Linked DNA regions of Homo sapiens. The protein of the gene in region 4 purifies or fractionates together with the protein of the main gene of each other region. This does not show direct contact. Each region holds a gene or a part of one and is shown on either strand. Other genes may lie near its edges. The genes, in order: COQ8B, SMIM43, OXA1L, SLC2A1, EI24, TRIM38 and XPOT.

What was found.
Region 1: the proteins of SLC2A1 (region 4) and COQ8B purify together in Homo sapiens (affinity purification with mass spectrometry; one large-scale study listed by BioGRID and IntAct). This does not show direct contact.
Region 2: the proteins of SLC2A1 (region 4) and SMIM43 purify together in Homo sapiens (co-immunoprecipitation; one study listed by IntAct). This does not show direct contact.
Region 3: the proteins of SLC2A1 (region 4) and OXA1L purify together in Homo sapiens (affinity purification with mass spectrometry; one large-scale study listed by BioGRID and IntAct). This does not show direct contact.
Region 5: the proteins of SLC2A1 (region 4) and EI24 purify together in Homo sapiens (affinity purification with mass spectrometry; one large-scale study listed by BioGRID and IntAct). This does not show direct contact.
Region 6: the proteins of SLC2A1 (region 4) and TRIM38 purify together in Homo sapiens (affinity purification with western blotting; one study listed by BioGRID). This does not show direct contact.
Region 7: the proteins of SLC2A1 (region 4) and XPOT purify together in Homo sapiens (affinity purification with mass spectrometry; one large-scale study listed by BioGRID and IntAct). This does not show direct contact.

What each region holds. Positions count from the first base shown.
Region 1 is NC_000019.10:40,692,356-40,696,820, reverse strand, and holds part of COQ8B (atypical kinase COQ8B, mitochondrial), read left to right. Parts: intron 1-766; coding exon 767-832; intron 833-3,783; coding exon 3,784-3,870; intron 3,871-4,447; coding exon 4,448-4,465.
Region 2 is NC_000004.12:121,760,319-121,763,525, reverse strand, and holds part of SMIM43 (small integral membrane protein 43), read left to right. Parts: intron 1-727; 3' UTR 728-799; intron 800-1,633; 3' UTR 1,634-1,696; exon of another isoform or gene 1,697-1,830; 3' UTR 1,831-1,988; intron 1,989-3,051; 3' UTR 3,052-3,207. UniProt on the Homo sapiens protein: Required for mesendoderm differentiation. Interacts with glucose transporters and promotes glucose uptake. Probably augments the glucose uptake capacity of glucose transporter proteins to meet the energy needs of mesendoderm differentiation.
Region 3 is NC_000014.9:22,769,363-22,774,182, forward strand, and holds the end of OXA1L (mitochondrial inner membrane protein OXA1L), read left to right. Parts: intron 1-428; coding exon 429-572; intron 573-830; coding exon 831-916; intron 917-1,098; coding exon 1,099-1,263; intron 1,264-1,442; coding exon 1,443-1,547; intron 1,548-1,655; coding exon 1,656-1,818; intron 1,819-1,905; coding exon 1,906-1,986; intron 1,987-2,071; coding exon 2,072-2,196; 3' UTR 2,197-3,680; downstream 3,681-4,820. Other genes in the region: SLC7A7 (Y+L amino acid transporter 1), read right to left, coding at 4,248-4,354, 4,571-4,754.
Region 4 is NC_000001.11:42,941,544-42,946,008, reverse strand, and holds part of SLC2A1 (solute carrier family 2, facilitated glucose transporter member 1), read left to right. Parts: intron 1-2,687; coding exon 2,688-2,783; intron 2,784-4,465. UniProt on the Homo sapiens protein: Facilitative glucose transporter, which is responsible for constitutive or basal glucose uptake. Has a very broad substrate specificity; can transport a wide range of aldoses including both pentoses and hexoses.
Region 5 is NC_000011.10:125,579,053-125,582,871, reverse strand, and holds part of EI24 (etoposide-induced protein 2.4 homolog), read right to left. Parts: coding exon 3,804-3,819; intron 2,780-3,803; coding exon 2,668-2,779; intron 1,662-2,667; coding exon 1,550-1,661; intron 527-1,549; coding exon 452-526; intron 1-451. UniProt on the Homo sapiens protein: Acts as a negative growth regulator via p53-mediated apoptosis pathway. Regulates formation of degradative autolysosomes during autophagy.
Region 6 is NC_000006.12:25,979,490-25,983,954, forward strand, and holds part of TRIM38 (E3 ubiquitin-protein ligase TRIM38), read left to right. Parts: intron 1-3,674; coding exon 3,675-4,198; 3' UTR 4,199-4,465. UniProt on the Homo sapiens protein: E3 ubiquitin-protein and E3 SUMO-protein ligase that acts as a regulator of innate immunity. Acts as a negative regulator of type I interferon IFN-beta production by catalyzing 'Lys-48'-linked polyubiquitination of AZI2/NAP1, leading to its degradation.
Region 7 is NC_000012.12:64,406,645-64,411,109, forward strand, and holds part of XPOT (exportin-T), read left to right. Parts: intron 1-3,317; 5' UTR 3,318-3,391; coding exon 3,392-3,451; intron 3,452-4,465. UniProt on the Homo sapiens protein: Mediates the nuclear export of aminoacylated tRNAs. In the nucleus binds to tRNA and to the GTPase Ran in its active GTP-bound form. Docking of this trimeric complex to the nuclear pore complex (NPC) is mediated through binding to nucleoporins.

The DNA.
Region 1 (4,465 bases), on a different chromosome or scaffold from region 4:
TACATAGAAAATATAGAAATGCATAAATGAGAATTTCAGGAAATAATTTAATAATGATTGTAGGAAAGAGGTGACCCTGGGGACCTGGGGGAGGTGTGATCAGGGCGGGATACACAGGAGGCTCCACGTGGATGGGGAGTATTTTTTTTTTTTTTTGAGACGGAGTCTCACTCTGTTGCCCAGGCTGGAGTACAATAGCACAATCTCGGCTCACTGCAACCTCCACCTCCCAGGTTCAAGCCATTCTCCTGCCTCAGCCTCCCAAGTAGCTGGGATTACAGGCACGCACCACCGCACCTGGCTAATTTTTGTATTTTTAGTAGAGACGGGATTTCACCATGATGGCCAGGCTGGTCTCAAACTCCTGACCTCATGATCCACCCACCTTGGCCTCCCAAAGTGCTAGGGTTAGAGGTGTGAGCCACCACGTGTGGCCGGATGGGGAGTATTTTATATTTTAGGCTGGGTGGCAGGATTTGTGAGTATTCATTTTACTTTTCTATATCTTTTATTATTCTCTGGATTTTTTTTCTGGGTCTAAAATTTGTTATTGCATAAACAATTAGAACTAAAAGAAAAAAAAGCCTTCAGCTAGGGGGTCGGTTGGAAACGGGAGATGAGGCCAGGAGCCCAGTGAGGCAGCCAGGCAGGGACTCTGGCAGGAGCAGGCAGGGTCATGGGGAGGGAGACAGATCCTGGCTGCCCCAATAGACAGTGAGGGTGTGAATGGGATCCCAGCATTCCTTTCACCATTCCTTGCTTCCAGGTGACCCTGCTGGACTTTGGTGCAAGCCGGGAGTTTGGGACAGAGTTCACAGACCATTACATCGAGGTGAGTCTCCCCCAGACCCCAGGGCCTCTGAAAGGCTGAGGCTCAAGCCATATACTGAGGCAGAGGAGTAAGAAGGCGAAATGCAGTTTCTGGAATTAAGAAATAATAAATAATAGTAATACTCGTAGCAACTAGCACACACCAAGCACTTAATATGTCAGGCTCCATCTTTAGTGCTTACGTATAGGAACCGATATAAACCACACAGCAACACAATGCGAAAAGGACCGTTTTTAGGCCCGTTTTAGGCCAGATGAAGTAACTGGGTCCTGGAGGGGTTAAGTCACGTGCCCAAGATCACAGCAGACTTGGGATTCAAATTCAGGTGGTCCAGGTCCAGAGCCCAAGCTTCCAACCACTGCCCAGCTCCCTCCTAAGAGAAAGGCCCACAGTGACCATCTTGTCACCTCTCCAGACCCCATGCTGTCCAGGGCCCTGGTGTCCAGCCCAGGTGTGTGTCCCTGGGGGCAACTCTGTCTACAGGAGGTGTTTCCTCACGTACTTGGCTCGTCTCTCCCACCCACTGGGGTCAGTTTGTCTTAGAGGCTGCAGAGAATACCATTTCATTCGTTGTTGAGATTGGACATTTGCCCTGGGTCCTCTAATCATGTAGCCATCAATCTAAACGTTTTCTTTTCCTTTTTTTTCTTTTCTTTTTTTTTTTTTTAATTGAGACAGAGTCTTGCTCTGTCGCCCAGGCTGGAGTGCAGTGGCTCGATCTTGGCTCACCACAACCTCCACCTCCTGGGTTCAAGCGATTCTCCTGCCTCAGCTTCTCGAGTAGCTGGGATTACAGGCATGTGCCACCACGCCCGGCTAATTTTTGTATTTTTAGTAGAGATGGGGTTTCACCATGTTGCCCAGGCTGGTCTCGAACTGCTGACCTCAGGTGATCCTCCTGCCTTGGCCTCCCAAAGTGCTGGGATTACAGGCATGAGCCCTCCTGCCCAGCCAATCTAAATGTTTTCTGACCCCTCCTCTGTGCCCAGCTCTATTCTAGGCAAAGCTGGAGACACAGCAGTGACCTGGGCCCAGCCTAGGCCCCTCCTCACAGAACTCATAGTCAGTGAGGCGACAGTGAGGACCTAGCATGGACAGGGCTGGGATGGGGGAAGCGCAGGGCACTGTGAGCCCAGAGGAGGAGCCTGAGCCAGCCTGGGGAGCCAAGGAGGGCTTCCCGGAGGAGGGAGTGTCAGCATTGAGACCTGAGGGATGAGGGGGGCCAACTGGGAAAAGGCTCGGAGGGTATTTCAGATAGACAACATGTGCCAAGACGAGGCAGTGATAAGGGACAGTCCCATTAGAGCAGCATTTCTCAGACTTGGATGTGCATGTGAAGCCTGGTGATCCTGTGCAAGTGCAGATTCTGGTCTGGAGGTGGGTGTAAGATGCTATGTTCTGACACGCACCCATGTGAGGCCAGGGCTACCCGTATGGGGACCACACTGGTAGTAGTAAGGCCCTAGAGCACCCAAAGGAAGCTCCCATTCTGAGTGGGAGGGCAGGTCGGGGGGCAGCACAGTGACGAGGCTGCAGCAAATCACTGCGGATTTTAGAGGCTGCGCTCTACAGCTCGTACTGTATCCAGGTGCCCTGCGGAGCCGTGGAAAAGATTTGAGCAGGGAAGGGATGCAGTCAGAATTTGAAAACTCCCTCTGAATAAGAAGTGGTCTCTAAGCCTGGGGGTGGGAGCTCAGGGCAGCTGTGGAGAGGGGCAGAGGGGTGGCTGGGAGATGCCCAGCTGGCAGTCCATGGGAGCAGACGGGCTAGAAGTTGGGGACAGAGGTGTCTAGGGGTCTGGTCTGGGGACTGGTGGGGCCACCTCTGAGACAGGAACAGGAAGAGGAGGTGATAACCCCTTACACACAGGCCCCTTGGGGCCCTCTCTGCCGGCCACTGAGGCACAAAGCTGAGACCCTTCTTCTCCCCACTGACACCCTCCCCTCCCACCCAGGCCTGCAGCCTTTGCCACTTTATAAAAGCCCTGGCTTCTGAGGACCACAGGCCTGACAGATGGCCAGACATGCTCGGGCAGGGGGAGCAGAGAGGGAATGGAATTAATCCCGAATCCCCCTCCTCACAAAAAAGGGCAACCCAGTAGTGAGTGGTGTGACCCGGTTCCACTCCCTACTCCGGGTCTGCTTCCCCTTCTGTGAAATAGGGACCCCCGTGCCCACCTCTTAATAATGGTAGATTATAGTATTTACGGTGCTTCCTGCATGAGACACAGCGCCAGGCAGGCCACAGGCATCACCTTCTTTATCCTCCCAACAGCCCCATGAGGAAGGCACTTTTGGCATCCCCACTTCACAGATGAGAAAGTGGAGGCCCAACAGGCCGGCAGGTGGCAGAGCTGGGACGGAACCCTAGCCAGCTGGCCCCAGCTGGGCATCTCTCCATGCCCACAACTCCTGCCCTGTGTGTGTGAGCTCATGGCTGGAGAGCTGCTCTGCTCCACACGCTCATTTGCTAAAGCAAGGTTCACCCAGGGCCTCCTCAGCACCAGACCCTGTGCCCCGTGCGACTAAACCCAACTGGGATCCTTGCTCTCACGGGGCTCAAAGTCCAGTGTGGGAGACAGAGAGATGGCCCCTGGCAACTTTGGATGCAGTTCTGGGTCACGCTCATACCCGTCCAGTTGAGTGTTTGGACTCACCAGCAGCCCTGACACTTGTTTCTTGCACTGTTTCACTGTGGCAGTTCCCGGGCAGGCCCCACATTGCCCTCTAGGTGGGCAGGATCCCTAACCACCTCCACTCCCAGGCTCTGGAAGAGTCTTTAAGGGAGTCACAGACAGGCAAAGTTGGGAGCAGGAAGCTTCCAGGTGAGGGAGGGCCCAGGCAGATGAGAATGGAGGTGGGTACATGGGAGGCCCAGGCTTCCAGCTCCTCTTCTCCAGAGCCCCCTTGAGCCCCGGCCTTTGTCCCTCTAACTCCCACCCGTCTCCCCAGGTGGTGAAGGCTGCAGCTGATGGAGACAGAGACTGTGTCCTGCAGAAGTCCAGGGACCTCAAATTCCTCACAGGCTTTGAAACCAAGGTGGGGAGACACTGGGGGAGAAAGGGGCTGGTGTCTGTTGGTGGGGTGCAGTGGGGGGCTGCTTATCTCCACTGAGGAACTCGAGTAGGTGATGGGGCATGTCGATACCCGGGGACTGGGGGACTCTAGGAGGGGCTTGTCTCCACTAGGGAGAATGGAGGCTGTGTGTCTATACCTGGGGAGTGGGTGACTCTAGGAGGGATGCTTATCCATGCTGGGGGCTTTGGGGAGGAGTGGGGGGAGGTGGCTGCCTGACTTCTCAGGAACCCTGGGAACATGGGCACCGTGGATCTGTTCAGGAGGGGCGAAGGCCGCTTCTCTGTTGTAGAGAGAGTAGAGGGCTACTTGTCTGTTGGAGGCTCTGCAGGGAAGTAAGGGGTGCTTACTCGGGGAATAGGCAGCTGCTTGTCTAGTCCAGGCTCTGGAAGGAGTGGAAGCTGCTCACTCTTGGGGGAGTCGGGGCTTGTGTTGATGGTGGAGACTGGAGGGAGTGGAGGCTACACGTTGTTTCTGGGTTATGCAGAGGGCTCTATGTCCACACTGGCTGCCTTTGCTCTCCCCCCACCCCCACTCCCAGGCATTCTCCGACGCCCAC
Region 2 (3,207 bases), on a different chromosome or scaffold from region 4:
GAGTGTTTGCACTTTTAATAATCATTCGGCCCTTTTGAAAAACAGTGCGGGGGTTCATGGGGTGAAATATGTGATGCAGATATACTCAATCTTCAGTAAGGGAAGATTTGGGTTTAGTCATGTCAGTGTGGGATAAGCTAAGTCATAACTATAGTATTGAAAATACTAATTTTAGACACAAAGACCATATAGAGAGGCTAAAAACAATGAAATACTAAAGTTTGCCTAAGTTGATAATATAAAAGTGAAGTGTAAGACAATTATTTTAATGCTTCAAAGGAAAAATAGTCTCAGGTGAATAATTTTGGCCCAAGACATTAGATAATTTCCCACTTTCTATTTCACTCTCCCCAAATAGGCCTGTTCTTAATGAAGTAAGAGGTTTACTTTAATTATTATGGTATGAGCAAATCCTCACCTCTTTATCAGAGTTATGGTAAGACTTGATTTGAATTCCCAGTTTGAACTCCCTGAATCAACTGCAGTGATTCTGTATTGTGCTTTGAACAATAGTTCTCTAATTGGTTGATATCTCTGCAGTGGCATTTAGTTAAAAGGTTGTATGGTTAATATGGACATTGAAGATGAGTGTGGGAGTAATTAATTAGCAATTATAGTTGTTTGTAAGGATTGAAAACAATCATTTCACACTTTAGAATAACCAGAATGGAAATTATTTTAACCACATGCTTGCCTTCTTGAGTTTACAATCCTTTAATCTTCCTAGCAGCACCACTGGTATCCATGAATTTAACCTGCCCATCATTCTTCCTAAACAAGAGACTATTGAAAAGTCAGGGTGAGTAGTTTATTACCATCTCAGTATTAATCCAATCTCTCAGCTGGTTCTACTGACTCAGGTTCCTAAGAAAGCAGGGGTGCCTTTCTATCTTGTATCCAGGGCCATTTTATTAACTCCTTGTAATCAAATTCATTAATGACCAAGTTCCCATTTATCCAGGCCACAATGAATATTTATTCCTATTACTCAACCTCTGCTTGGAACTTGACTCTAAGCTCTGGGAATTAAGGTAACTCACATTTGCTCTTAGATCTTGCTGCTGTTGATCTCCTGCCCTGCACTTGCTTTGTTAGAGACTCTGCTTTTGAAACTTTGACAGCTGTAGATGAGCTGTCTTTTGCTGTTTATTTATTTATTCAATCATCATTTTTCCAAGACCTGACATAGACTGATCTCTCAAATTAGAACTACTTTCAAACTCACAATTTTGGCCACCTTTATGCATTTTTGGCTTAGATCAAATACTCTGACACCCACAATGGTCTAGGTTGCAGGCTTCTACATGTTGGCTACTCCATCCCCTGACGATCCCCTGTTCTGACAATCACTATGTGCCAAATCTATTTTTAAAGACTGTATATATATGAGCTAGACATTAAAGCACTTGAAAAGTCAAGAACATTTAACATAACTGCTTATTATATAAATGTAACTTGATTATAGAAGATTCCTGTGTTTTATTTTCAATAAAAAGGTTTTTAGTGATTCTTCAGCAATGTTAGAAGGTGACTTGAATTTCTTACATTATAAGGAAATGAGCCATAATTCTATTATGTAATATTTGTATTTTATTTCAAATGTTATTATTTCATCATTGTTTCTAAATTTCAGGTGTTCAAAATGGCTTCAGATCTTATCAGGACAATCTTGGCTGTTGCACTAATTTCCAAACTTGTAAGTGCAATGGATCTGCAGTTCTACTTGGCAAGATAACCATTTTAAGTTGAATGAGAATGACATCACACTCACACCTGCAAAATCTAAAATGTCTAATAAAGTAGATTCCTATGTCTGAACTTCAATTTTAGGGCACAGCTGTAGATGCAGAACTGATGCCATCTGGTGCGATTCTACAGAATAAGAGAGAAAATTTACCCAGAGTGTGCCATGCACTGGCTTTTCTGGGAATGGCAAGGTGCCAGGATTTGTTTTTGGTTCGCTTGCAGGGGTGGAAACTTGGAACTAGGTGAGTAAAAAATATGAAATACTCTATTTTTAGTTTGACATTCTATATTTCCAATTTTGTCTATAGTTTCAAAATCAGTGCAATAGAGTTAAATTTTAAATGACCAAAATTTTAAAGTTTGTAAATGGTTAAACCATTTAGAATAGTGGGAAATGTTTGTTGTTTTCTAAGTCACACTTACTAATCTAGAGACTGTTAGAACACTAAAGATACTAATGTAATGCATAAGGTATCTACACAGTGCTGTACTTTGTTTTTAATTTTTACAGCTACTCTGAGATATTCGTGCATATTTAAGCTAAATCCACAATTAAAACTCTAGGATCATTAGAATGTCACTGTCAGATGTCTGTGTCACATACAAGAGAAGGTTAAGAATTGAGTTGTAAATCTTTGATGTAGTTTTTTTTTTTTGTTTGAATCAGTGAAATAAATTTCTCAGTCCTCCACTTTTTATTTTGTCTACACAAAATAAATAATGTTATGGGTTAATAATGATCTGATTAAGTATCTGAGTCATGAGCATCTTCCCATACCGGAAGGTGGATTATCAGAAGGGCGTTCAGACCCAGTAATCAGAACTTAATAAGCATGCAGAAAAAGCTTTCTGATGGATTAAGGTTAAAAAAACCTTGTTTTTTTCCTTAATAGTAGCTTTTTATATAATAAGCCCAAACATTTCTGCCATTCTTGGTCTGTATAGACAGATCCTGAAGGACATGGGTGGGTTTGAGCTAAAACCATTATCTGCGACTTTTGTTTTATTAGTATGACTCTGAAGTTACTTGAATTTATTGAATAGGTACAGATTCTTCAAGCAAGATGTCTTTTCCTTTCAGATGAAAAATCACACTTTCCTATTGGGAATCAAGATGAATTTTTATCTTGGTAATGGAATAGGAAGTTCTGGACTGAAGAGCGGCTTAAATAAATTAGAGGGTTTGTTCTTTTCTCACAGAACAAGGAGGTTAGAGGCAGGCAGCTGCTGGTGCTGGTTCAGCAGCTCACGGGTGTCAGGCTTAATTAAGGTGGCTGCTGAGGTTCCCTTGGCTTTTTCCTCCAGGTTCCAAGATGGTCCCCGCAGCACCCCACAAGAAGAAGGAGGAAGCCCACAGAGAAAACGGGGCATGCCAGTTCAAATCCACTTCCTTTTAAAGAGCTTCCTCAGCAGCCCAATAACTTTTGCCTTCATCTCATTGGCCAGAACTGTGTCATTGGC
Region 3 (4,820 bases), on a different chromosome or scaffold from region 4:
GTTGTCACAGATGACTGGGTTTCATTCTTTTGATAGCTGTTACTTAAAAGACTGCTCTGCATCCAATTAGCCTACTTCTTTCCATTTACTCCCTCAGCCGTCTGGCTTTTACTCATATCACCTCATTCGAACTGCCAGTAACATAATTGCTAAATCCACTCCTGTCAGCTTTTTGTTTGAGGAAACAAACAGGATTCCTAATCATCTGCTTAGAGAAGTTAATGCCATACTTTTGTGATGCCAAATTAGAGAACTGAGCCTTAAAGCAACTAATTCATTCCCCTGACCTTATTTCTGGGCCTCTTAGGCATGAGTCATAGAATGGACAAGGCAAGAATAAGACCCTTTCAGTAAGGACCTAAAAGCCTTCAACCTTCTAGCTGCAGAACTGCTTTAATTTCACTCCAATCCTAGTTTGTATTTTCCAGGTACAGTCTTTGCCCGCTGCCTGATTTTTCCTCTCATCGTGACGGGCCAGCGAGAGGCAGCCAGGATCCACAATCACTTGCCAGAGATCCAGAAGTTTTCCAGTCGAATCAGAGAGGCCAAGTTAGCAGGAGACCATATTGAGTGTGAGTCAGTTGCAGAATGAGCGTGGGAGAAGTCCACATTTGCACTTTTCCTTACATTCTGCTGGGGGAAAGGAACAATGTAAATCAGAAGTTGCCACAGTCGGGAAAGTTCTAAAGGTTTATCTGTTTCTTAGACCTAATGCTCCCAAGGAGTGGCCAGGGTTGGTTAGAAATTTCACAGGCCAGGTAGATAATGAGGATGTTCACCTCCACTGATGTAACTGTTACCCCAACCATTAATTTCCCCTCACCTCACAGATTACAAGGCTTCCTCGGAGATGGCACTTTACCAGAAAAAACATGGTATTAAACTCTATAAACCTCTCATTCTCCCTGTGACTCAGGTGAGCAAAAACATTTCCTTCCTTATTTCATCCAGTACCCATGAAATTTCCTCTCTGTGTTTCATGTGTCCCAGGTCCCCCAAAAAACAGGTGGTGGTGGATTATACATGGCTTTCAGTAGTGGGGTGATGAAAATGTTCTCTCTGGTAAAGCATGCTGACACTGTTTATCTTGTGTAATAGGCCCCAATCTTCATCTCCTTCTTCATTGCTTTGAGAGAGATGGCCAACCTTCCTGTGCCCAGCCTGCAGACAGGTGGCCTCTGGTGGTTCCAGGATCTCACGGTATCCGATCCCATCTACATATTACCACTGGCAGTCACTGCTACAATGTGGGCTGTTCTTGAGGTAAGCCCAGATTGGCCAAGTGCCAGGCCTGCAAAGTGAACTGGGGTTGGAGGGTAAAGTAGTTGTACAGAATGGTCATCCTTCACTTGCTGGAGAAAGAGTTGATGGGTAAGAGATTAGAGACAGATTCACTGAAACTGACAGCTTTCCCGACTTTTCCACCCCACTTCTTTTGGCAGCTAGGTGCTGAGACAGGTGTGCAAAGTTCTGACCTTCAGTGGATGAGAAATGTCATCAGAATGATGCCCCTGATAACCTTGCCCATAACCATGCATTTCCCCACGGTATGTAATGCCTTATGGGCTGGCTCCAAGGCCTTCTGCCTAGCCTAGCCACCTAGCAAGCTGACCAGGGATACAGCTTCTGAGTCCCTTCTCTGTGTTCTCACCCAGGCAGTGTTTATGTACTGGCTCTCCTCCAATTTGTTTTCCCTGGTCCAAGTATCCTGTCTCCGGATTCCAGCAGTACGCACTGTACTTAAAATCCCCCAGCGTGTTGTACATGACCTGGACAAATTACCTCCACGGGAAGGCTTCCTAGAGAGCTTCAAAAAAGGTAAGGGCTCATCCTCTGTGAAAAAGGACTAGGGAAAGGGGTCTAAAAATAGGAATGCAACTGACTCTCTTGCTTCTCTTTACACAGGCTGGAAAAATGCTGAAATGACGCGTCAGCTGCGAGAGCGTGAACAACGCATGCGGAATCAGTTGGAGCTAGCAGCCAGGGGTAAATAGTCCTTTCAGGCCAAATTCTGTCTTTTGTTTCTTCCTTTCTGTTCTTCGTTGAAATTTGTTTTCTCTTCTCCCCTCAGGTCCTTTACGACAGACCTTTACCCACAACCCTCTCCTACAACCTGGAAAGGATAACCCTCCCAATATCCCTAGCAGCAGCAGCAAACCAAAGTCAAAGTATCCCTGGCACGACACACTTGGCTGACTTATGTTCTGTGCGCATTCTGGCAGGAATTCTGTCTCTTCAGAGACTCATCCTCAAAACAAGACTTGACACTGTGTCCTTGCCCCAGTCCTAGGAACTGTGGCACACAGAGATGTTCATTTTAAAAACGGATTTCATGAAACACTCTTGTACTTATGTTTATAAGAGAGCACTGGGTAGCCAAGTGATCTTCCCATTCACAGAGTTAGTAAACCTCTGTACTACATGCTGCTTCCTGATACTTATTGAACAGGGAAATCAGTGTGCACTTCAGAAAACTGAAGAATACCCAGCATTTTGGGAGGCCGAGGTGGGTGGATCACCTGAGATCAGGAGTTTGAGACCAGCCTGGCCAACATGGGGAAACGCCATCTCTGCTGTTTTACAAAAATAGCCACACGTGGTGGTGCACACCTGTAGTCCCAGCTACTCGGGAGGCTGAGGCAGGAGAATTGCTTGAATCCGAGAGGCGGAGGTTGCAGTGAGCCAAGATCGCACCACCGCACTCCAGCCTGGGCAATAGAGGGAGACTGTCTCAAAAAAAAAAGAAAACTGAAGAATAGAGTGAGTCATGATTGCTTTTGCTGGCCCATGGCCTTGGAAAATATAATGTTTTAACCTGGCATTAAGGGTTTAAACTTCCACCCAGGCGCAGTGGCTCACGCCAGTAATCCCAGCACTTTTGGGAGGCCAAGGCGGGCGGATCACGAAGTCAGCAGATCGAGACCATCCTGGCCAACATGGTGAAACCCCGTCTCTACTAAAAAAAAAAAAAAAAAAATTAGCCGGGCATGGCGGCGGGTGCCTGTATTCCCAGCTACTTGGGAGGCTGAGGCAGGAGAATGGCGTGAACCCAGGAGGCAGAGCTTGCAGTGAGCCGAGATTGCGCCACTGCACTCCAGCCTGGGCAAGAGAGTGAGACTCCTTCTCAAAAAAAAAAAAAAAAAAAAAAAAAAAAAAACAGTTTAAACTTCCAACCCATGCATGTGTTGTTCTATGCACATTTGGATTGCAGTCTAGAGGTGTGGCTGATAAGTTGAATGTTGAGATTGTATCTAAATATAGTAACCGCACTTCTTGATCCCAAGATTACTTTAAAAATTTCAAGAAGTAGATGTGTGCAAATTCTTAGTGATAATTAAGAATGAAAGTTCCAGGCTGGGCAAAGTGGCTCACACCTATAATCTCAGCACTTTGGGAGGCTGAGGTGGGTAGATCACTTGAGTCCAGGAATTTGAGACCAGCCTGGGCAACATGGCGAGACCTTGTCTCTGCTAAAAAGTTAGCTGAGCATGGTGGTGCTTGTCCATAGTCCCAGCTACCTGGGAGGCTGAGGTGGGAGGATAGCTTAAGCCCAGGAGGTTGAGGCTGCAGTGATCCAAGATCATGCTGCTATACTCCAGCCTTGGCTACAGAGCAAGATCCTGTCTCAAAAAGGAAGTTCATGTCATTTTTATGTAACAATCCAACATTTGACTAGAGCAGTTTAAGTGTTCTGTTGTCTGCCTTTGTGTAGAGCCTGGTTTATCAGCCTTCAGCAGCTAGCTTGAGAGAGAAAAGATGGATATACTTTCAAGCATAAGATTGATTTTAGTCTTTGTGTTTCTAGGCTAATGGGAGCTGTCCTAGAGATAGATACTATATAAAATGAAGCCACTCAGACTTTAGGAACATAAACTTTTATTGTCATCCAGCACCTGTGATAGTTTCATGTCTCTCTAAAGGAGACAGGAAATTGGAGCATTGTGGGCCCTTTTAAAAGAAAAGAGGAGTAGGTAGGCACACCCAGGTGCTTCTAAAACAACCAAGCCCAAACCTGACATGCTCCTCCCCACAGTCACCTTCATTGTCCCCTTTAAAAGTCTGGAACAGTATGTAGCAAAACAAATAAATTACTTTTCATTTCAAAAAGTAAGTTCAAAGGTTGAAGCTGCCTAGGCCAGGCTTCTGGACAGGTGCCTCCAAAGAAGTGAGCTTTCCTTTTCAACTTCCTTAGCTCTAGCCAGTAGACCAGAAACCCCTGCTTTCCACATCAGGATTCCAGATGGTGTTTAGTTAGATTTGGGATCCCGTTGCTTGGGCATCTCTCCTCCATCTTCCAAATCCATTTCTGCAGCAACTGACATACACAGGACCTGGAGGTACCTTGTGGCAGACCCTACAAAGAGAACTTTGAGTTGGAATTGAGAAGAGGTCAGCTGGGCTGAGTTCAAGTGTCACTGAATGGAACTCAGTGTGAGGGGAGTGATTCCACTAAGCCGAAGGGTTCATAAGAAGGGGCTAAGGCAAAGATGTCTTTGGAGGCTGGATTTACAGAAAAAGGCAAAAACCAAGCTCTGCAATAGCTGAGCGGACTTAAGGATGCACGGCTTACCCACGATCCTTCGGAGGTAAAGCGGTCGCTTATGTTCTGGCACTCTGATGATGAGGAAGTAAAAGGGCAGGCCTGAGAGGGCAATGGCAATGCCGATGAGGGAGTTGATAGTATCACTGTAAAGTGGAACAGCCACCAGGAAGATGGTGCAGAGGCAGAAGACAATCGGGAAGAAAACGCTGAGCTAAGGGCACAGGAAACATAACTGGAGTGGACAACTCAGGATTCTTAACAGCTAAAATAACCCCAC
Region 4 (4,465 bases):
TTTGCCAGATCCATGGATCATTTGTATTATTTTCCACTTAATGTTTTTATTTAAATTGCTTTGTTCTAAGTAATATGAAATCACAGGGCTTGTAAAAATTATTTTGAATAGGTGATTCCATTCACACCATTCAGAATTCAAAAAAGTGCCAAAGGCTATAAAATGAAATCTCCCTTTCACCCTGTCCCCAGTCACCCAGGCCCCCCCGGGGTTAGAATGTTACCTTTCTTGTACATTCTTGTTTTTTGTTTTTTGTTTTTTTTTTTTTTTGAGACAGAGTCTGCTCTGTCGCCCAGGCTGGAGTGCAGTGGCGCCATCTCGGCTCACTTCATCTCCCAGATAAAGTGATTCTTGTCCCTCAGCCTCCCAAGTAGTTGGGACTACAGGCACGCACCACCATGCCCAGCTAATTTTTGTATTTTTAGTAGAGACAGGGTTTTGCCATGTTGGCCAGGCTGGTCTCGAACTCCTGGCCTCAAGCTGAGATTATAGATGTGAGCCACCGTGCCTAGCCTCTTGTGCATTCTTTTAAATAGATGTGTATATTCTCCCCCTACCCCCAGCCAATTTTTTTTTTTAACCCAAAAGGTAGCATACAATATACACACTGCTCTGTTTTTGGTTTCGCTTTTGTTTTTTGGGACAGAGTCTCACTCTGTCACCCAGGCTGGAGTGCCATGGGGTGATCACAGCTCACTGCGGCCTCGAACTCCCAGGTTATGTATTCCATTATATCACTATGCCACGTTTTCTTAAATGATAGATTGATGTCACTGCATTGCTTGTTTTTTAATCTATTCTAATGTGTTCCAGAAAAATACAGTATATACTTTGCATCCCATGAGCAAATGCAGGTAATACCGCAGGCAGAAAGCCCAGCACGTGGCGGGCCTAGCAGTCGCTGTTTAGTGAGCCCTCCTGGTGATGCTTAGTGCCTTGCCACAGCCTCTGAATTAGTGTCCACCCTATGAATTAGGCTTGACCTGGTGTGTCGCTGGGGTCCCCCAGAAATTTGTCAGCTGCTCACTACCCACTCGGAACAACAGCTCTGGGCCTGAAGGCTCCCCAGAGAATTGAGAGAAGGGAGATTCTGGGGGCAGTGCCAGGACATACGGGGGGTGGGGGCTGTCTTTCTAGTTGGGCAATGCAGAGGATTTAGAGGGAATGGAGTCCCTGTGGTATGAGGGAAGCCCCAGCATGTGGAATAAATGTCCAGAGGCAGGCTAAGGGGTCAGGTAGACAGACTAATGGGAAGGAAGGATGCAGCGCACACACAGAGGGGGCTCTGAGCTGCACACTCCTCCTGGGCCGAAGCCTTCTTCCTCTTTCGCAGCCTCTGATGTGAGAGCCTTGGCTTTTGCAGTCGTTGCCCTGACTGACGCTTTCAGAGAATGAAAAGACCATACTGGGAATATGCCTGGTAACAGCTATGCCCAGGGCTATCTGTGATGATCTTGAAGTAAAGGCTGCTTCTGGGTTCTGTGGAAACCAAGGCCCAGAGACCCACAGCCAGGCCATGGCCAGCTCCACCCACTTCCAGGGCCCAGCTTGGTATAGTGTGCGTAGTGAATGCCAGTCGTTTCTTTGGCATGCCTCCCGCAGCCCTGTTCTCCCACAATCAGTTAAAGGCCTGCCTAATGTCACATTTCCTGACTTCCTCATTTTTATAGCTGAAAAGAGCACTTTTCTTCAGCAGGGCTGACACCCTGCTGGCCTCTCAGTCACCTGTGGCTAAGCAGGGCTCTTCACCTGCTGGCCTCTGCCCTTCCTGCTGCCTTAGGTCCTCGGCTTCCAATGGACAGAAGCAAACTGCTCTTTTTCTCTCCCATCCCTTTGCCCATTGGAAACACCTTAGCCCCACACTCTTACTCACCTTGTGCACTTTTCCAAAGTGCATTCCCGCCTAGCATGTCGTCTATGTCCATATAACCTTGGGAGGCTTATGGTTTGGGGATTATTGCCGTGAGGAGCACTGGGTAAGGAGTCCGGAGCCCTGAGCTCTGCTGCAGGCTCCTGAGTGATCTGGAACTTGCCTCACCCTCTCAGGGCTCAGTTTCCTGCCCTGTGAACAGCAGGAAGGGTAGGGCAAGGTGGGATCACATCTCCAATGTGACAAACGAAGCTGTTGCCATTTTGCTGACAAGCAAATGGAGGATAGGGGAGAGGTGGTACATGGGGGACTTAGCCTGCTGGAATTCACAGAGCAAACAGGCAGATGGGCTGGAATCAGAAGCCAGCGGCTTCAGCTCCAAATCCAGGGTGCTTCTCCTATCTATATCTGTGCTATTCCTACCAAGTAATTTGGGCCCCCTCGCATAGGAGGGCTGGTTCCTGGGCCTCCCAGTCAGAGAGTCTAGAACCACCAGACCCTAGGCATGGCTCCACCAGGGAAATGAGACCCCCAAGAATCCAAAGCCTCTCCCTCTCTGAGACCTGGCTACAGAGAGAGAAGATCATACTTCCCCTCTCTCCCCAGGAAATGGCCCGGCCAGCCCAGTATCTTGAAGTCAGCTAGGCTGGTTTGGGCACCTAAGGTCAGGAATTGGCCAAGTTTCCTGGGAGAAAGACTGGTGTGGTGCCAAGAGTCAGGCAAGATATCTGAACACAGAAACTTGCCAGTCCAGGCCCTGCCCTGTAGTAACCTGCTCCCAGACACGCCTATAACAGTGTGGTTTGTTTCTCCGCAGAAGCTGACGGGTCGCCTCATGCTGGCCGTGGGAGGAGCAGTGCTTGGCTCCCTGCAGTTTGGCTACAACACTGGAGTCATCAATGCCCCCCAGAAGGTGAGTACTGTGCCATCGTTGGCTTATGGACACCAGCCTGCTCTGTTGCACATCACACATGCCCACAGTCTCACGCCACCACCTGAATTAGAGTCATTTATATGAACGCACTGTACTGTCTGCCTCTCCAGCCAGTTTTCTGGCCCTGATCATGTCAGAGACTCTTCTCTTGCTTTGGAATCAGGGTGGCAGAATTCTAGAATCTCAGGTCCCACAGAATCCTGGGGTCTTGTATAGGCCCTCTTGACCAACCCCCCACCCAACTCAGTCATTTAATAATATGTTTGATGATATAATAAACTCAAAGCAAAGCTCAATACAATAATGCTGCATTTCCGTGGCATTCTGGGGCTGCAGAGGGTTTTCATGGGCTTGTCTCACTTGATGCTCACTGCAGCACTGTCAGGAGGCAGCAGGCACCACTCCCAGCCTGCAGGTGTGGGAAACGGCCAGAGAGAGGAAACCCGCCCAATATCACCCAGCTAAGTCAGAGACAGAGCTGGTATCCAACACCTGCCTGCCAGGTGGTCCTTGAGCCTGCACTCATACCCATCCACAGGCAGCACACTTCCTTTATTTGTAGGTTGAAACCGCGTCCTCTCCCTGAAGGCCCTGTGGCAGTCAAAGCAGAAATGGCGTCTTGCCCTAGGGAGCCACAGGGGGTGAAGGTCTGTGCTGGCTTCCTCCTCCCTGCCGTGCATCCTAGATCTGTCCTCACTTGTTTACTTGAATGTCAGGATGGGAAGGGACCTAGACCATCTCCTCCAGCCCAGCCTACTTGCATTAAGGAGGAGAGAAGAGGAAAAGGGGGTAGGGGGTAGGAGGCAGGGACAGGAAAGGAAACTGAGCCCTTCCTCTGTACCAGGCATTTTGCTTGTGTTTATGAGATTGGGTGGTGATTTCCATTTTGTAGACCCGGAAACTGAGGCCCAGGCAGATGAAATGGCCGACAGGCCCAAGGTCACAAAGCTATTGAATGCTGGAGTCAGAAGCCAAGCTCTGTTGTTTCCATGGCCTCAGGTTGTCTTCCTAACCAGCTGCCTTGCCCGTTTAAAAATCTGTACCTTCCCAGAGAGGACCAAATGAGAGTGGGCAGTCCTCACGTCAGGACCACATTTCTTGTCCAGACGGATGGGGCTAGAAAGTGAGTGCAGTGACTCCCAAAGATCAGGGTCCTGTTTGGGGGAACCAGGTAGTGTCTAGAGTTAGCTGGGCTTCTTCCAAATAGGCAGACAGTGGCTATGGGGCCACGCCCGATGCTGAGGAGCAAGTCACCAGGAAGGCTTGGCCTGCTGAGTCATGCTCAGCTGCAGGGGAGGTGACAGGACTTTTCCAAGTTTGCTGGGCATGGAGACCGTGGGCCCATGCTTGGACCAGCCCCAAGCCCTGCATTTGCTAAGTGCTCTTGACAGCTCTTGCCAAAGTGTGTGCTTCAGAACTGGCTCCCTTTGGGAATCCTTACAGATGGAAAGTCTGTAAGACAGGCTGGGAGGAAACAGAGGGAGGTTGAGCTCTCCACTTGGTTGCACATTGGGGTTTCCAGAACGCCCCCAGATTCTGATTTAATTGGTCTGGGATGCTGTTTGGGCATTCAATTAAAAGCTTCCCAACCAATTCGAATGTGCAGCCAAGGTTGACAGCTACTGGATTTAATGATGTCTTGACTGTGATCTCATAGTGAG
Region 5 (3,819 bases), on a different chromosome or scaffold from region 4:
AGCTGTGCTGTATAGCAAGAGCATACAAAAACCCAAAGCAGACCTAAGTCTCTAATACAAGTATCCACACTGACTTAACCAAAATTGATCAAAGATGAATTGAGCTTTTCTTTGAAGTAATAAAACTTTTAGAATGCTATTATTATTGCTAAAAACTCATTTTAAAGTATATTTTACTACTGTTATCAATAAACTCATGTGGCCAGGTCATACAGCCCTCTACTTGAATATGTATAATGGGATCGGTTTTGGAAATATATATATACTCATGTGCATATATGCATGGAGAAAAGTTTGGGTTATATCCCAGAAGTGTTTCTCTCTCATTAAACCTTATATTAAGATTTTCCTACAGTAAGAATTTTTTTTTTTAAAAAGCCTCACTGACATAACTGGTGTTACAGCCCCAACCCTTTACACAGCAAAAATTTCATCACTGGCTAATACTTACTATGCTTTGCCAGGGGTCTTTGCTTCATTGGCGCTGATAATGAATAAAGGAAAGAGGATAGAGAAAAGGCAGCCACTGTTTAAAAAAAAAAAAAAGAAATAATTAGTCACCTTCATAACAGACATGACTTTGAAGAAGATATTAGAAGCTCCAAGTTCTTTTGCTTCCAGTGTAAACATTATGGCTTGATGAAACCTCAATATTTCAAACATTTTTTTTTTTGAGATGGAGTCGCGTTCTTGTCGCCCAGGCTGGAGTACAGTGGCAAGATCTCAACTCACCGCAACCTCCGCCTCCTGTGTTCAAGCGATTCTCCTGCCTCAGCCTCCCAAGTAGCTGGGATTACAGGTGTGTGCCACCACGCCTGGCTAATTTTTGTATTTTCAGTAGAGATGGGATTTCACCATGTTGGCCAGGCTGGTCTCGAACTCCTGACCTCAGGTAATCTGCCCACCTCAGCCTCCCAAAGTGCTGGAATTACAGGCGTGAGCCGTGGCACCCAGCCCATCAAACACATCTTTCAAAAAGAACAGAAGATTTTTCTAAGCACTGGGCATGTTTAACATTGCTGCAGGGCTGGGCATGGTAGCTCATGTCTATAATCTGAGCACTTTGGGAGGCCAAGGTGGGTGGATCACTCGATGTCAGGAGTTCAAGACCAGCCTGGCCAACATAGTGAAACCCCATCTCTACTAAAAACACAAAAATTAGCTAGGCGTGATGGTGGGCGCCTGTAATCCCAGCTACTTGGGAGGCTGAGGCAGGAGAATCAGTTAAACCCAGGAGGCGGAGGTTGCAGTGAGCTGAGATTACACCACTGCACTCTAGCCTGGGCGACAGAGTGAGACTCTGTCTCAAAAAAAAAAAAAAAAAAAAAAAAAAAGAATAATTGCTTCAGGAGGCAACATAGAAAAAGAATATGGGATATAGGGACATTCAGACTAGATCTTCATGCTAACAAATGTAGAAATACCCTGCAGGTCTCCTGATGGACAAATGATGATGTAGAATGCGAAACAGAACGAAGCAAACAAAAGGCACTGACTTCATGAATTTTTATTTTTACTAGTCTCCTTCAAATCCCTGTAGCCAAATTACCTGATAATATATGAGGACTGCATTGCTGTGAGAAAAGCCAAGGGCAAACCAAACCCAAAGTAGTAAGGCCAATTCCTTTCTATGTTAGACAACCGCTGGTGCATTTCAATTCCTAAAACAAGAAAGCCAATACAATTAGATATTATATTTCCTTTTAGTCAAGTGACTAAGTAACTATGGTAGACAAACCATGAGTTTTAGGTACAGATTTTATTATTATTATTATTATTATTATTATTATTATTTGAGATGGAGTCTTGCTTTGATGCCCAGGCGGGAGTGCGGTGGTGCAATCTCAGCTCACTGCAACCTCCACCTCCTGGTTTCAAGCGATTCTCCCACCTCAGCCTCCCAAGTAGCTGGGATTACAGGCGCCTGCCACCTCGCCCAGCTAATTTTTGTATTTTTAGTAGAGACAGGGTTTCACCATATTGGCCAAGCTGGTCTTGAACTCCTGACCTCAGGCGATCCACCCACCTTGGCCTCCCAAAGTGTTGGGATTACAGGTGTGAGCCACCACACCCAGCCTAGGTACAGATTTAGAACAGAGCTACAGCATATAAATTAGAAGTGTACAAATCTGATATAAAGCATGCAAAGTTTCTTAGAATTCTATAATCGTAATTTCAAAGCTGACAGGCTAAGTGAATTAAGAATTTCAGCACCAGCATCCTTTGTCAGGATTAGTCTGGAACTAAGCAAGATAGCAAATCAAAAGGATGCCATCCTGTAAGTATCAGTTAACCTCTTTCAACCACGCACACCCTGGTAAATATCTGAAGGTCTTTCTAAAACACCCCCAAAAGGATCCAGATGCTGACATCAATTTGACTTCTCTAATTTAGAGCAACTCATGCTCATTTATGCCATCTTACAACCCAGTCAGAGATATACCATGTTAAGCACCAAAAAGATAATGCCATACTACCACATCCCCCAGCCTCAAAGTTGAGAGTTAAACCCACTAAGCCGAAGGTAAGCTCCCTCTTGCCAATGAGGCTGCTTCCCTCAAAGGATTGTTTGCCAAAAGCCTGACTATGAGTAGTTTAAGAAGTCTGCTTAGCAGTAGCATTTCCAAACTGGGCCTCCATTTTCTGGATTTCTTTAGATGGACTTACCTTTATTGAACCAACGATATTCAAAGCAGTACAGTGAGTAGAGAAGGGACATATGCAGGAGACTAACCAGCTGACCGACAAGATGGATGGGAAAGAGACTCACAAACATTCCCTGAAGAACAAATATGGAAAATCTTAATCCCAAAGCCTCGGAAACCTAGCACCATTCACCTGTCACTCTCCAATCACTGTCTGAGATAGCTTCCTAGCTGCTTCTCAAGTTTCTAAAAGGCCGAGTGCAGGGTGGGCACAGTGACTCATTCCTGTAATCCCAACAGTTTGGGAGGATGAGGCGGGAGGATCTCTTGAGGCCAAGAGTTAAAGACCAGACTGGGCAACATACTGAGACCCTGTCTCTACAACAAGATTTTTAAAATGAGCATGATGGCATGTGCCTGTAGTCCCAGCTACTCAGGAGGCTAAGGCAGGAGGATTGCTTGAGCCCAGAGTTTGAGGCTGCAGTGAGGTATGATTGTGCCACTGTACTCCAGCCTAGGTGGCAAAATAAGACCCTGTCTTTTATTTATTTATTTATTTTTGAGACAGTTTTGCTCTTGTCGCCCAGGCTGGAGTGCAATGGCGCGATCTCGGCTCACTACAATCTCTGCCTCCTGGGTTCAAGCGATTCTCCTGCCTCAGCTTCCCGAGTAGCTGGGATTACAAGCATGTTGCCACCACGCGCAGCTAATTTTTGTATTTTTAGTAGAGATGGGGTTTCACCATGTTGGCCAGGCTGGTCTCAAATGCCTGACCTTAGGTGATCCGCCCACCTCGGCCTCCCAAAGTGCTGGGATCACAGGCATGAACTACTGCGCCCAGCCGACCCGTCTGTCTCTTTAAAAAAAAAAAAAAATTAGGCATAACTATAAAAAGAAAAAAAGTTTCCACCTGGCAGGACTGGAGAATAACCAGAGTAGCAGAAAAAAGCAGGTAAATTCATGTTTCTTATAATTTTATAATGTAATTTTAAAATTCTCATTTCCGTGGGGAAAAAAAGATTTAAAAATCATTACCTCCCACCAGCATATATATAATACTCTGTATAAATATAATACTCTGTCTTTGTGAAGTTCTCTCTAGTGAAACAGTTTTTCTTTTTAATAAAGCTGCCCATATGCCCAGAAGGTCAGTCTCACCTGAATGAGGAAAAGA
Region 6 (4,465 bases), on a different chromosome or scaffold from region 4:
TTTCAATTTTATTAGTAGCATAAGATTTATTATAAAGTTCTGTAATATTTAAAAAGTTTCTGTATTCATTCCATTTGTGCCTTCTGTCTTACTTTGATAAATCTCATTGGAGGTATGTCTATTTTATTAAATTTCTTTTAAAAGAAGCTACCTTTTTTTTTGTTTGTTTTTCCTCTTTATTGCATTCTTGTTTTCTTTAACTTCACTGTTATATTGTTTAATATCTATTTTTTCTTTTTAAAAAATTATATTTGGCTTTCTATGTTCTTTTTAAAATTTAAATTAGATGCTTGGCTCATTAATGTTCAGCTTTTTAATTTTTCTAAGATAAGCATTTAAAGCCTACAAATTTTCCTTAAAATTCTGCTTTAGCTTCATTGTATATTTTTATAAATAACTTTTTATTATTGTTCCATTCTATACATCTTCTAATGACTTATTAGTAGTTTACATTTCCTAATATTTAGAATCTTTTTAGTCATCTTTTTATTATTGGTTTATAATCTTATATTGAGGCTAGAGAAAATGATCTGTGTAATACAGATTTATTGAAACTTGTTCAGACTGTTTTCTGCCTAGTATTTACTCAGTTAGTGCATGTTCCATCTATACCTGAGAAAACTGCATATTCTCTGCTTACTATTATTAAACAATTGCTGAGCTTTATGTATTGACTATGAGATTGCGCTTCTTAGATTGTTCAGACCTTCCGTATCTTCCCTTATTTCTTTCTTTTGGTCTGCCTGATCTATCAATTATGGAAAGAAGAATGTTAAAACATCCCATGATGATTGTAGATTTGTCCATTTCTCCTATAATTCTACAATTTTTGCTTTGTATATTAACACAATTCTAAACATGAATTCACTAATAATGTAGTACATTTATGTTTAAAATTGTGTTATCTTTTTTAGGTGACTCCTTTCATTCTTTCTTTTTTTTTTTTTTTGAGACAGAATCTCTCTCTGTCACCCAGGCTGTAGTGTAGTGGCGAAATCTCAGCTCACTGCAACCTCTGCCTCCCCGGTTCAAGTGATTCTTGTGCTTCAGCCTCCCAAGTAGCTGGGATTACAGGCATGTGCCACAATGCCCAGCTAATTGTTGTATTTTTGGTAGAGCCAGGGTTTTGCCATGTTGGGCAGGCTGGTCTTGAACTCCTGGCTTCAAGTGATCCGCCTGCCTTGGCCTCCCAAAGTGCTGGGATTACAGGCATGAGCCACCACACCTGGCCCTTCTTCCATTCTTAATAATGCTCTGACTTAATATCTTTTGATATAATACTATAACAGTATATGACTATATTATCTATCTTTTAGCTTCCAATCTTTCTATATGTTTTTGTTGATGTGTCACACCAATAGATAGGTGGAATTTTAAAAATCCAATTGATATTTTTTCTCTTAAGTGGTATTACCACCCCGTAAACATTTTAATTTCTCAACATGGGTTTTCCTGGGTCATTCAGGTAATATGAATTGAAACCCCAAACTTCTGTGAGTCAGGCTGATAAAAGCTAACTGAATAGAGTTTGAAAAAGGAGGGTATTTACAAAGGTGAGGAGTTGGGAAATCCACAAGGAACAGGAAGCACCCAGAACTAGGAACAGTTAGAGAGCCATCACCTCCTCTGGGCCTCAAGTGGCAGGTGTAGGGAGCTGTAACTATACTAGAGTGTGCCCAGAGGCAGAGGAATGCAGACCCTCCAAATCATAGCGTGGGACTGGGGTACTGAATACTCCCAAGGCTGCTTCTTTGTGCCCTATGGTCTCCTCTGGTGCTTCCCATTGGCTGAACCAAGCCAGAGGGCGGAAAGCCTGGTTAATCTGTCCATGTCAGCCTTCCTGGGCACAGAGCAAGACAGGGAAAAGTGAGGGATTATTTGGAAGAACAAACAGAGAGCATCCAGCACAGGAAGTGTTTCTGAATACTTGAATTCCTTAATTGTCACAGACCAACTGATCAACATTTAACTCAGTAGCACAGTGGTTTCTTAACTCTCTTGTTAGAACATCCTATTACCATTTTTTATTTTTAAAACTGCATACTGTTCAGTATCTCACTTTAGGTTATCAGATCTTTTTTCTGTCTTGTTTGATTCTAGTCTGATATTTTTCATGTATATTGGTCCTCAGTGTATTATTATCTCATACTAATGCTTATGGAACATTATCTGAGGGGAAAGAGAAGAGCTTACAATTAAAAGTCATGGGACTAGGCATGTGTCATGAGACCTGGGTCTTCCAATAACAAGCTAAGACATTAGCTGAGTCATTTTCCCTCTCTGATTCTCAATGTTGGTGGTTATTCAGTAGAGAAGGGAAAAGGTATCTTTCTGCTCAACTGTCTCATGATTCCTGGAAGTCCTGCATGGGAGAAGAACTTTGGACAGGATGGTAACCATATTAACAGGTTAGTTCTGTACCTTGGCATCCTTGAATAATTAAGACGAAGATGATGTTGATGATATCATTATTACTACATGTTGTTAGAAGAGCTGAAGCAGGACTGGCTTGTCTGTCATAATGTAAAAGAGTCTTGGAAGATGTCCGGGGTCCAGGGTCCAAAACCCCTCGTGGCCTTTGGAACACCAAGCTCTGTGCCAAATGGTGGAAGGCTGCCCTGCCGCACCACAAATCTAAGCCTAGGGCATAAAACCCCTTGTGGCTTGGATGGAACCCAGGGCTCAGGGCATAAAACCCCTCATAGCCTCTGGAAAGTGCACAGACTTGTTGGTTCCTTGCTTTTCACTCATAAACGTGTCCTCTACTATCTCAAGCAGCAGAGTATATTCTACATGTGTCAAAGAAAATGCTAAACTGTCACAGCTACGCTTAATGCACCACTACCTTTCTACCCCCATGTCCTCATGCCCTCACCTGTTTACCCTCACGTCCTCACCACCTGCTTCTTTGTTTGATCACCAATAAATAGTGTGGGCTCCCAGAGCTTAGGGCCTTTGCAGCCTCCAATCTAGTGCTGGCACCCTGGACCCACTTTATGCACTCTTAACTTGTCTTTTCTCATTCCTTTGACCCCGCCGGACTTTGTAGCCCCCACGGCCTGGTGTTGGGCCTGATCACCCCAACAACTACCACTTATTAGGTGGTTACCATGTACCAGGAATTTTACCAAGCATTAAGCAAACATAAGCTTATTCAATCCTACCCACCATTCTCTGCAACAAATACGGTAATTTCCACTTTATAGTTAACAAACTGAGGCTCAGAAAGTTAAATGATTTGCCTAAGCTCACCCAGTTTATAAGAAACAATAGTTGGGTTTGAACACAGGCTGGTTTTATTGAAAATAACTTGTGGCTGGGCATGGTGGCTCACACCTGTGTAATCCAGCACTTTGGGAGGCCGAGGTGGGTGGAACACTTCAGGTCAGGAGTTTGAGACCAGCCTGGCCAACATGGCGAAACCCCATCTCTACAGAAAATTTAAAAAAATTAGCCACTTGTGGTGGTGCGCACCTGTAGTCGCAGTTACTCCGGAGGCTGAGGCAGGAGAATTGCCTGAATCCAGGAGGTGGAGGTTGCAGTGAGTTGAGATAGTGCCAGTGCACTCCAGCCTGGGTGACAGCAACACTCCATCTCAAAATAAAATAAAATAAAATAACCTGTGTTCTTCACAGCAACAAAATTATTTTTGTTTGTTTTGTTTTGTTTTGCAGTTAGTGTGACTCTGGATCCAGATACAGCTCATCACGAACTAATTCTCTCTGAGGATCGGAGACAAGTGACTCGTGGATACACCCAGGAGAATCAGGACACATCTTCCAGGAGATTTACTGCCTTCCCCTGTGTCTTGGGTTGTGAAGGCTTCACCTCAGGAAGACGTTACTTTGAAGTGGATGTTGGCGAAGGAACCGGATGGGATTTAGGAGTTTGTATGGAAAATGTGCAGAGGGGCACTGGCATGAAGCAAGAGCCTCAGTCTGGATTCTGGACCCTCAGGCTGTGCAAAAAGAAAGGCTATGTAGCACTTACTTCTCCCCCAACTTCCCTTCATCTGCATGAGCAGCCCCTGCTTGTGGGAATTTTTCTGGACTATGAGGCCGGAGTTGTATCCTTTTATAACGGGAATACTGGCTGCCACATCTTTACTTTCCCGAAGGCTTCCTTCTCTGATACTCTCCGGCCCTATTTCCAGGTTTATCAATATTCTCCTTTGTTTCTGCCTCCCCCAGGTGACTAAGGAAAAGAGCAGAAGCTCCTTGGTTTAACCAGCACAGAGAAAATAATATAAATCCCATAAGGGCAGACGTTTGGTCTGTTTTCTTCGCTGTCATTTCCTTAGTAGTTAGACTAGTGCTGAGATTTTAGTGGATATATAATTGATTTATGTTGAATATATGGACTTAGCAACTAAAAATACCACAGATGGTTAACCTGGACTGGGGCAAAGCAAGATAATAGTGATGATCGTATGTTGCTGTCTCCATCCGTCTTTAATGGGTCAGGG
Region 7 (4,465 bases), on a different chromosome or scaffold from region 4:
GGATTATAGGCGTGAGCCACCCTGCCTGGCCAGCATTTTTTTAAAAAGCCATAGCAAATTCAAGGAAGCTTTTATTGGACTTCTCAATCAGGGATTCTTAGAAACTCCGAAATCGTTTTTTCTCTCTGTGGGCATTTTTCAGGGGAATGGACATCAGATTTTCTTAACATTTAGGGGGCGAAGGGAACCAGTGCCTTTCTTTGTGTTTTTCTGTCTTTTAAAAATGCTGATCTGGTATAAGAATGCCCCAAGTCGTTTCCATTCCACATGTTCCTACCTCTGACTATAAACAACGTATTGAGGGCTCACTATGTGCCAGCCATGCTCTGCATACCTTATCTCTTTGAAGCCTTTACAACTTTATGAGGCATATGGTCTTTTTCCCATGTCATAGAAAGGGTTCTCTCAGGTTTTGTAAGTTGTCCAAGTGGCCCCAATTAAAAAATGACAAGATGGGGATACAAACCCAGGTCTTTGAAATCCAAAACCTATGCTCTACTATGTCCTAGGGACATAGTGATGGATAGTCAAGACAGTCCTTGCCCTTTAAGATTGTGAGAAATGGCCGGGTGGCTCACACCTGTAATCCCAGCACTTTGGGAGGCCGAGTCTGGCAGATCACCTGAGATTAGGGGTTCGAGACCAGCCTGGGCAACATGGTGAAACCCCATCTCTACTAAAAAATACAAAAATTAGCCGGGTGTGGTGGCTCACCCCTGTAATCTCAGCTATTTGGGAGGCTGAGGCAGAAGAATCACTTGAACCCAGGAGCCAGAGGCTGCAGTGAGCCGAGATCATGTCACTGCACTCCACCCTGGGCAACAGAGTGAGACTGTCTCAAAAAAAAAAAAAAAAGATTAATGAGAGAAAACTAGTAAGCTGGCAGTGACAGCATAGCAGTGCTTAGGATGGGGCATGTAATCCAATTTGGGAGAGTTGGACAATAGAGGTCAAAGAAGTGTTCTTGAAAGAGATGGCTTCTAAGTTGAATTTCAAAGGACAGCAGGGGTTAACCTACTAACAAGAAGAAAGAGCAGTGTGCAAAGATGAAAGGTAGAATACCACTGGAGAACTGCCATATGGTTCACTAGCACTGGCCTTGCTGACCTGGTGTGCAGAATAGTGAGGAGTTATTCAAAAGTGTTTGGATCGTAATCTGAGGGCAGTAGGGAGTTACACTGCCTTGAAGTCTGCAAGTACGTTATGAACCATAAGAGAAAGGGCTGAGCTGTCTTCAAAGCTCTCAGTCCATATCCTGAGTTATTTGATTCAGGCAGGCTCAGAGGAAAACAGAAAAGCCTATTGTAGGTATCCTGTAACCTGGACCTGAGCCTGGTTTTGCTATTCCCAAAAGGCCTTTCTCCCCTACCCCTGCTATTCCCAAAAGGCTTTTCTCCCCTACCCCCAATCCAATTAGTTTTTTGGCGTCTTTGGTTAACGGTAATTGAAACAAAAAGCCCCACAGCCTTTTTTTGTTTTTTTTGAGACAGAGTCTCGTTCTGTCACCCAGGCTGGAGTGCAGTGGCGTGATCCCAGCTCACTGCAACCTCCACCTCCTGGGTTCAAGCGATTCTCCTGCCTCAGCCTCCCAAGTAGCTGGGATTACAGGTGTGTGCCACCATGCTCCACTAATTTTTTTGTATTTTTAGTAGGGGATTTTACCATGTTGGCCAGGCTGGTCTTGAACTCCTGACCTCAAGTGATCCACCTGCCTCGGCCTCCCAAAGTGCTGGGATTACAGGCATGAGCCAGCACGCCTGGCCCCCCACAGCGTTTAATGGAAGTAGTAAGACTTGGTCTCCCTACCTTATAGGTCTTGAGAGAATAATATCATTTTTCACATCATTTAGAGTTTGTTCCATGTTTGCTCAAATGAATATGCATTCTATCAAAAACTAGGATGCCTTTTGCAGCTTATTATTTGAGAATGTTGGAACCTATATTGTGAAGAAGTGGATTACCTCTCAGAGATTAAAAAAAATCCTTAAATAAGAGTAGTCAGTGTTAAGTCATTTGTGGATTTTTTTTTGTGTGTTTTGTTTTTTTTGAGATGGAATCTCACTCTGTTCTCCAGGCTGGAGTGCAGTGGCGCAATCTTGGCTCACTACAACCTCTGCCTCCTGGGTTCAAGCGATTCTTGTGCCTCAGTCACCCGAGTAGCTGGGATTACTGGCATGTGCCACCAAGCCTGGCTGATTTTTGTCTTTTTAGTAGAAACAGGGTTTCACCGTATTGGTCAGGCTGGCTTGAACTCCTGACCTTAAGTGATCTGCGCACCTCAGCCTCCCAAAGTTCTCAGATTACCGGTGTGAGCCACTGTAGCTGGCTGGTTTGTGGGTTTTTGTATCTACTATTGAAAAACTTTTTTTTTTTTGAAATTTTTAGAATTGGCTGGCAAGAGCAGAGATCTGTAAAATGCAAAACTAAGTCCATTGCTCAAAAGCTAAATGACTGGTTTTTCATTATCCTGTTCCTTTCATTAGACTTCTGTCATAGTACTTAGTAAACACTCCAAAGGATATTGAACTCTGAGGTCAGCCATTCTAATGTTTTAAAGAAGGTTTGTGATATTTGTATCTGGAAGTAGACAAATTATTATAATTACTGTAATAGTCTGCATTTGTCATTTTTATACTTAACTGCAGTTGCACAATTGCATTTTTAAGTACTAGAGATAAGTAAAACACTGCATAAATTAGGTACTTCTACTATTTAAAGTAGAAAATGATTACTTTCTATACCTTATTAAGAAGATCTTGAAGACTAAGAAAGCTTGAGGACCTTTATGGCATACTTTAAGATTTTTAGGGGCCAGGTGGGGTGGCTCATGCCTGTAATCCCAGCACTTTGGGAGGCCAAGGCGGGCGGATCACGAGGTCAGGAGATCAAGACCATCCTGGCTAACACGGTGAAACCCTGACTCTACTAAAAATACAAAAAATTAGCCCAGCGCGGTGGCGGGCGCCTGTAGTCCCAGCTACTCGGGAGGGTGAGGCAGGAGAATGGCGTGAACCTGGGACACGGAGCTTGCAGTGAGCTGATACGGTGCCACTGCACTCCAGCCTGGGCAACAGAGTGAGACTCCGTCTCAAAAAAAAAAATCAGATTTTTAGGAATTACACATTAGTGGAGTAGTTAGCAGAGCCCATTTTTCTGAGAATTAGGCTCTAACTTTTAGTTGTAATTTAGATAAGTTCCAAAATAAGTTTTTAAACATTTAAGCTTCTTTGCATGATTTTATCCATTTACGTTATTCAGGATAAGCATCTATTTGTTTATCAAGTAATGTTTTCTTTCAACTTTGTTTTTTGTGGCAGATGTTTATAAATTCTTCTGTGGGATCAGAGGGCACGCCTATTACAACCAGAAAACTACAAGTATAACAGCGAGGATGGATGAACAGGCTCTATTAGGGCTAAATCCAAATGCTGATTCAGACTTTAGACAAAGGGTAAGTTACTCTGCTGAATCATTTTTTAATCATGTCACCACAGATTGGCATTAGAGGACTTGAATAAAAATGCACCTGGCAAAAGTTTACTTTGGGTAGAAATGAACAGAAACAAAAAAATTTGAGGTATTTGAATATATTTTGAATATAGAAACAGTGAGTGTTGTGATTTATTTTCTGTTTACTTGGCCAAACAAAAGTATTAAAATCTCATATGATTCAAGGCAGATCTTTATGCAACATCAGTCATTATTTCTAATTATTTAAAAATTGTAATGCAAAGGATTCGTTTAAGAGACTTTCCATAGCAGCAGACATGTGTATTTTATTTTCTCTTTCCTTGGCTTGATCTATACAAGCTGTTTTAACACTTACCTTAATGATTTTTTTTTTATTTTAATTTTTTTCTAGAGATAGGGTTTCACCATCTTGCCCAGGCTGGTCTCGAACTCCTGAGCTCAAGCGATCTGCCCACCTCAGTCTCCTAAAATGCTAGGATTATAGGCATGAGTCACCCTGCCCGGCCACATTAGTGATATTTAACTTTCTTGTTATTTGGTCTAGGCAGACATAAATAAGCAGTTATGATAGGTTATGTCTTAAGTAAAATGGTTACATGACAAGAATCCATTATAAAGTGCTGGGATAGTTGGATAAATGTAAACAATTAAATATAATGTAGCCTACAACTATAATCATGACTATAGCTGAATGATAGAAAAATATAAAGAATGAGCCTATAATTAATTTTTTTTAAAGACGTGGGCATTTGGAACTATAGGGTAAGTGGAAAGGAAAGAGGCATTTTCTTTTTACTTTTCATAGCAAAGAATACTTTTTATAAATGAGCTAAATGAGGTTAACAATCTCACTAAAAATTATAGCAGTTTTTATTCTTATTTTAAGAAAAAAATCTTTTAAAGCAGTAAAAAACAATCCCAACTAGTTTCTAATACAGTACCATGTGCATGTCTCTGCTACTAAATAAGTAACGAGCCCTTCAGATACAGGAAA